Linked DNA regions of Homo sapiens. The protein of the gene in region 1 interacts with the protein of each later gene in a biochemical or structural test. Each region holds a gene or a part of one and is shown on either strand. Other genes may lie near its edges.

Region 1 (3,823 bases):
TCTGCTTCCCTGCTGGGATTCAAATTCCCTGGGGTTCTACCCCCAGAACCTGGTACAATGACTTACCCATAGTAGGTATACAATAAATACTCATTGCATGAAGAAAAAAATGCCTAGAAGAAAGAGAGAATGGGTTATTAAAATACCCAATAACCTGAATAATGTGAAAGTGTGAAACCAAATTTTGATTTTTTTTTTTTTGGCTACTAACTGGCACATTCATTTAAAACATATTTTTCATCCACGGTTATTAAAAATTCTTAGATATTTTCATCCAGGATTATTAGAATTTTAAAATATTTACCCAAGTCTCACCACTATGGAACCCTTTATTACAAATATATGATCCCAGGGAGTCAATAGTACTTTCAAACTGTACTATATATATCATTGAAAATTGAATAATACTGGAGAAATCTATGAAAATATTTAAAGTTAAATTATGTACCAGCTCAAGAATTTAACATAGCAGAATTTAGTCTGTAAAGAAATAAAATCACCAAGTTTAAAAGAATATTAAATCACTGTTTATACTGGCAAGATAAATCTAAATCACCTTACTGGCCTTTCTAGAAGTAATTTGAAAGATGTGAATTAAGTGGGGGTAAAGGTTGTTCTTATACTGTTATTTTTGTGGGTTTCAATATAAGATCAAAAGATTAAAATCATTTTTAAAGCAATTAATTTATTATAATGTTTACCCTAAACTCAGATTTCTATACAAAACTAGTGATTGAAGTTAGGTCATTTTAGGTTAGAACTACTCAATAATTTTGTGTTTTATAAGTGTTCGTAAATTTCATCCATAATTTTAAAAGAACACTAGTCACTTTCTTACATAATTTATGGCACAATCTTTATGCCATAATACTTAAAGAACATAATGCTGTACATTTTAAATCAATTTTGACAGTGGCCTATATTTCTACTCACAAGCTATTATTAAGATACAATGCAGTTGAGAGATATTTTATGTAAAAAAGTATATCAGTCAACTCAAATGAACTCTTGTTCCCAATGATGACATATTATCCTCTAATTAAATCAGCTAAGATAACTCACAATCGCTCTAAAATTAATGCCCAAATCAAGAGTTTAACAAGTGACGCTTCTAATAGCCCAACTTTTAGATTGCTTTGATACCTGGAATTAATGTGATTCTTTTAGAAATCTAGTGACTTGTAGAATCATTACAAAAACAAAAATTGAAGTTCACCTCACTCATTTGTGACTTACACTGTCCTTCCAAAAACTTTTAAAGAAATCAGCTAACTAAACAGGGGGCAAAGAAATAAGAAATCTTTGAACCAGGCAGATAAACAGAAATTAAACAATTTATCTCAAACTACGATATTTACTGTGGCTTTAAAGAGTAAGAGTTACCAAACACTGTTTTCCATTTAAGTTAATGTGATATCTCCATGGAAACTGGAAAAAAAAAAAAAAGTTGTGTAAATTGTAAATGTATTAAATTAGTTGGTTTGCCGGGGGAGCAGACAGAAAGACAGGTTTCCAGAGAAAGGAAACGCCCACTGGGCAAAGATCAGTGAAAAGGAAACATTATGTATTTTGAAACAAGCAAATAATCTTTTTAAACTGTAGATTTTTAGATAAATACTTGATAAATTAATATCAAATAGATGAAGACTTTAGTGCTTTTTTAATATCCAGCTGTAACCCAACTCTCAAAATACCTGGGACAGAAAAAGTTGCAAAATAAATACTGAAAACAGAGCTAGTTACATTTTTTTTTCTAATCTGTGGAGATAAATGTTCTTACTCCCTCTAGCCCCATGAATAACTTTCCAGCATGAGCTTTGTTGGACTAACCCAATATTTCAATAGGCCTAGTATACTGAAAGAAACCAAGACATGTACTTTAGTTTCTGTGTTTTATGTAACTATATCTTGCCAGAAAACGTTCAGAAAAAGGCATAAACGCATGAACCATTTAATGGTGGTAGCATGGCCAATTCCTGAGAATACAAAATCCAAAGTCAAAGTGATATTGAGAATTAGAGACGTTGGAACAAAATAGAAACGTATTTAGCATGCAAAACTGGAAGGGATACATATATGTATATAGTGATTAATAATACCAGACTATATATATATATATACGTATATATATATATATATATATATATACATATATATATATATATGTATATATATATATATATACGTATATATATATATGTATATATATATATACGTATATATATATATATGAAATGAGGAAAGAATAGATTTTGCATGCATTCATTCAAAATAAATGGTGAATGTTTAATACTGTAAGGCAGTGAGCCAAGTTAGGTATATAGACCCTGGAGTCAGAGTGCCTGGGTTTGAACTGCAGCCTCATTACTTACTAGTAGAGTCACCCTTAGGTAAGTTTATTAAAGTTCCTGTCACACAGCCTTTTTATCTATAAAATGGGGTTAATGTGTAGTATCTACTAAGTTATTGGAAGAATTCAGTAAGGTGATATTATAAAGGTAATAATTTTTAAGTAGGTGATGGGCACATAGTAAATTCTATATAAGAGATTGTTAAATAATGTCACATTACATAAGTAATGAAAACATGATCATGTAGGCCAATAAGTCACTGTTAACTACAAAGTGTTATAATTAATGATCCTAGCAAGACTCAAGGCATAAAACAGTGGCAGAGTAAGCCTGAAACAACATTCTCTGAATTTCCCAGAGTTTTAAGCAGGTGCTATTTTCAGTGGTAGAGTTCCTTTAGAAGTTTAGAGCCACCAACATGAGGAGGATTGGAAACTTAGGTCATAATTCTGATGAATGAGGAAAGACTAGAATGTTTCACACTGACCTTTGATGAGAGTAACTCTCCTAACAAAGAACCTGATGATTCACTGCTCAGTATCTTCCCAGAGGATAGAACAAGAAAAAATAAGCAAGCATATTGTGAAGGCTTTTGGCTAGATATCTGGAAACATTTCTATACCACAAGAATTGCTAAATATTAGAATGGATTGCTGAAAGGGGATCAAGAGTCTACTCCTTTGGAAGTTTTTCAAACAAGGATAAATAGTCTATCTGATCTCCTTGCCATGGTTTAAAATCAGTGCTGAGTGAAAACTGATGGTGCAAACTGCCCCTTGAAGGCCTCCTCCTTCCCAAGCATTCTCTGAAAGCATAACTTTATATATTACCTGTGATACTTCCTCATCTGTTGGGTTTCCATTCTATCCTAGAATAGAAAAGGGCAACACTATTTCACAATTGTGAGTTCTGAGTAAAACTTTGATAATGTCATGATGAAACATAATGTCCTTATTACTTCTCAAGTTATTTCACTAAGCAAGCTACCTGCAAATAGCTTTCAATTAGAAACAGCTGTCATGAATCTGAAGTCTGAACAGCAATTCTTTTAAATTTATGTGCCCTGGCAGATTGAAGACACATGAAATTCTTCAAGCAAACCATTAGATGCCCAATCAAGGCAAAGGATAAAAAAGAGTTTAAGAAAAGATAACCACTTACACTAGATAATTAAATGTAAACAGTATCAAGAACTAGGGAGGAGAGATAGAGTGTGTTCCTGTAACAACAGGGTATATTTCCTAAGTGATTATTAAAACAGCAATAGGTAGCATTAAGTAAAGTTGATTTTGAAAAAACAAGTATATCCTTAAAAAACACAATTATCTTTCAATTCATTATTTTCCTATTAAATGTGCCTCTGACCCTGTGGTGACCTGCATCTTGATTATGTCTACCAGCATCAAAGGACACAAGGCTTAAAGCAAAGTTAACAGTATGCCCTTACTCATGGAAAGTAGGTGAGTTTAAAA
Region 2 (3,823 bases), on another chromosome or scaffold:
TGGAGAGCCCCTCTTGGGCAGGTCCTTCAACATATCAGTGTAGCTCCCATGTTGTCAAAAATAATAACAAAAACAGAATAGAGGTGGCAGCTACATTCTAGGTGCCGTTCTGAATCTGTGCTTACACACGTTAACTCATTTCTTCCTCCTAACAATCCCTCAAGGTGGGCACTGTTACTCTTCTCCATAGACAGATGAGGAAGACGGAAGCACAGAGAGGTTGAGCAACTTGCCCCAGGTCACACAGCCAACAAGTCGGCAGAGCCGGGATTTGAACCCCATGCAGCCTCAGTCCAGCATCCTTGCTCTTAACCTCTGAGAAAAGGCAGTCAAGAGCCCTGGGGTGTGTGTGTGCGGGGGGTGTCTCTGTAGCGATTCAGGTGGCCCCCGCAGCAGATGGACTGCTGTCCAAACAAACATCCCTGACAATCGGGCAGAGCTCCTTCCAGGCGTTAGGAATCCAGGTTGTGGCAGCCAACAGCTTGTGGGCTGTGTGAAGTGACCTCAGGCCAGTGAAGGCCCCTCCCTGTGCCTCAGTTTCCCTCTCTGCAAAATAGGGCTCAGATCACAGCAACTCCGCTGACAGGGGACGGCAGGTTGGAGGAGACAAGGATGCTACTGACTTGCTTACTTAGCAGAGGGCCTGGCACGGGGCGCCAACTCTAAATAGTCGGAGCAGCTGTTATTATCCCCCCGACATCCCCTCATTTGCTGATCACGGGGGTTAATTATAAGCGGCATTAAATTATACACACACAGACGCGCCAACCTCGCTTCCCCAGAACCCCTGAATTTCCGCAAACTCTCAATTACCCACGTGACAGCGCGACGATGGGCCATCCTCCCAGCCTCTCTCCCCACAGCCTGCCTCATCCGAGGGTCCCAGGCTTCCAGAGCCATGGCTTCTCCGCCCGCCGGATACCCCTCTGGGTGTCCAGGAGCGGAAGGAAGGATGCATGCGACTGACTGCGGACGCGTTGAGAGCCAGGGGAGGCATGTTTACCCACAGCATCTCATGTCAAGGCTCGCCGCGACGCAGACTGCGACTGTACTGATCTTAGAGATGAGAGAACACAGAGAGGTCAGGCAACCCGCCCTAGTTTGCACAGCTCAAGTGAGGAGGGTGGCTCAAGTCAGGGCTCTGACCTGGAACCCAGAGGGGTAACCTCATTCTGTAAGTGAGGAAGCTCCTGCACGGAGAACTGAAAGGGAAGAGGGGAAGTCATCCAGGAAGGAAGGAAGGCAGGCAGGCAGGTGAGATCTGGGAGAAAAAGGGGAATTTTCAGTTCTCCAGGTAGGGGGAACAGGAGACAGCTGGCCCTTCCTATAAGGGGCTTATGGCAAAGATCAAAAACAACTTAAAAGGAGCAAGGCCACCCAGATAACATAAAGAGTACGAGATGAAATCTGTCCCCATGAAACGGGACATTTGTGATCCAGCCCCAGTTACGGCGATGGGGACCGGAGGAGGGAGTCCCCATGATCCAAAAATCCAGGCTCTGAACCCCCAACCAGGGTGGGATCCGCGGGAATCAGAAGGAAACAGGAAGCCGCACAGAAACCTGGGTTTATTTTCAGATGTGGAATATCCCCTCGGCCTCTGCGGGGCGCAGAGGGTGCCTTGATTCCGGGGAACAGAAGAGGGGATTCCACGGCTAGCCCAGAATAGCACCAGCCCCAAGGTCCAGTCTGGCCAGGCCACGATGTTGGGGGACCGGCAGCTCCATGGAGGAGGAGGAGGAGGAAAAAAAAAAAAGAGAGAGACAAAAATAAAGCGATGTGAAAGTGGAGGGCCTGTCCGTGAATCACTCCTACCCGTTAATTTTCGCCTTTGGAGAAGTGTAAGCCAATTGATTTTTCAAATTCCCCACACACAACCCCCTCCCCAGCGCTTCTCAAATATCAGCCAGAGACAAGACAGAAATGGTACGTCGGGTTTTTTTTTTTCTTCCCTTTTTGGTTGAGAGTCTTTTCTTTCCTTAAAGGAAAAGGGGGGGGGGCGGGGGGGAAACCACACACTCCACACTCTTGAACCTCAGGGTTAGAGAGACCCAGGTGTCACCTGTTTCCTAGACATTTTGGGGCTGCCACTCTCTGCGTGAGACAACAGCCACCCTTTCCCTCGATCACATCCCCTACACTTCACTTCCTCTCTCCGTGTCCCCCTTCCTCAATTCAGAATGTCACCTGGTGATAAGATGACATGCATTTGAGCCTCAATCCCCTTCCAGCATCCCCTCTCCTCTGCCCCGCAAGCCACAAGCTGGCAGCTTTCCGATTCCAGAGCAAGGTAAGGTGTGAAAATGACAAAATTCACAGTTTAAAAAGCCCTTGAAACCTTCAAGCCCCGGATACGTGCCTTGGTCCGTGAATCCATGGTGAATTTTTGGTTTTTTTGTTTTGTTTTGTATCAGCTTGCCACACGAATCCTGCGAGGAACAGCAGTTATGTCTTAATCTCCTCTCCTCCTGTCCCCACCGGAGGCTGAGCCACTCTGCCTGGTGAGCGGTTGGAGGGTGGGGCGGCGGCGGGTGGTGGGGGGGAGGGTCTCTCTTCAAATTCCCCTCCCTGGGCATCTTTTGCCGCAGGGAAGGACGGAGGAAGGGCAACCTGCACAGGCTTTGCCCGAGAAGGGTTCTCATCCTCCTTGCAAATTCTAAGAGGACACCCACCCATTGGAAGGTGAGCCAGGAGCCTACCCTGGATGCAGAGGAGAGCTGGGGAGTGCCCCTTTCTGGGACCCCTGTCTCCTTCCAGAAAGTACGAGACCCTCCCAGAAGGGGGCTACAGCGGTCAGCACTGCGCCCGCCAAACCTAAAGCTCATCTCAAGATCTTCCCGTGGCTCCGACCGACTCTGCAAATGGAGCTTAATGGGTAGCAGGGGGAAGGAATTGCTCTCAGCCGAAAAACATTAAGCTTTGTCAATTATCCCCCAAACCCGCTGGGTTTATAAATATCCCTTTTTATTTTTAGGGTTTTCCCTCCCGCTCGCCCCCATCCCGAACTCTCTCCACGCCCCGCTTCTTCCCCCACGCACACGGCGGCTGCACCGTCACAGAAAGCAGGTGAACGCGGGGCCACGGGGCGCTCGGGTAGAAATGCCACGTCGCACCACCAAGTCACACCGTCCCTGCCCGTCCCTCTCCGGCCATCCCACTAACTATTGTATTGGGGCCATGCAGCCGCTGGAATAATCAGCGAAGCCACAGGTCTCCCCATCTTGGCAAGTGGAGGTGTGCGCTGCCCTCAGACATCTGTGAACCGCTGTTCAACGCCAACCCCGAAGGCAGAAGGGGAAACCAAGTCACCTCCCAGAAAGACGTTTGATGAGCAGAGATAGATTTGCCTCCAGACTGGTACCAGGTCTGGGGAAACCCAGGCAGAGCCCCAGGCTCTATGCGACCCAAAGAAGAAAAAAATGGGTGCACAGTGATGGCTCCAGGTCTCCCCACCCAGATGCTACCACGAAATCCCTGGCATCCACGAAGCTTCCCCCTGTTCCATGGTGGAAATTGGGGGAAAATGGACTTGTGTCTCCAAGCAGGGTCCATGGACACTGGACGATGCCTGAAATCCCCTGGGAGGCAGGGAAAAAAGGCGCACTGAACGCTCAACCGGGGTATAAGGAGTGATTTTTTTTTCTCTGCTGGCAGCAGGCAGGAACCTGGGGTTTGAATGTCCCCTTCTCTGTCGCCACCTCACGCAGACTTCAGAGGCTCTCAAGGTTTCCTGGAGAGGGGGAAATCGTCCCCGGAGCTGACCTGCCAACCAGTAGCACCCTCCAGCGCCTCAGCCGGGCCACGCCAAAATGACCTGTCACCC

Evidence for each region.
Region 2: the proteins of GPC6 (region 1) and PTPRS form a complex in vitro, tested with the Homo sapiens proteins (one study listed by BioGRID).

What each region holds. Positions count from the first base shown.
Region 1 is NC_000013.11:93,229,723-93,233,545, reverse strand, and holds part of GPC6 (glypican-6 precursor), read right to left. Parts: intron 1-3,823. UniProt on the Homo sapiens protein: Cell surface proteoglycan that bears heparan sulfate. Putative cell surface coreceptor for growth factors, extracellular matrix proteins, proteases and anti-proteases. Enhances migration and invasion of cancer cells through WNT5A signaling.
Region 2 is NC_000019.10:5,334,274-5,338,096, forward strand, and holds part of PTPRS (receptor-type tyrosine-protein phosphatase S isoform 1 precursor), read right to left. Parts: intron 3,794-3,823; exon of another isoform or gene 3,184-3,793; intron 3,067-3,183; exon of another isoform or gene 2,975-3,066; intron 2,683-2,974; exon of another isoform or gene 2,589-2,682; intron 2,502-2,588; exon of another isoform or gene 2,415-2,501; intron 2,291-2,414; exon of another isoform or gene 2,222-2,290; intron 1-2,221. UniProt on the Homo sapiens protein: Cell surface receptor that binds to glycosaminoglycans, including chondroitin sulfate proteoglycans and heparan sulfate proteoglycan.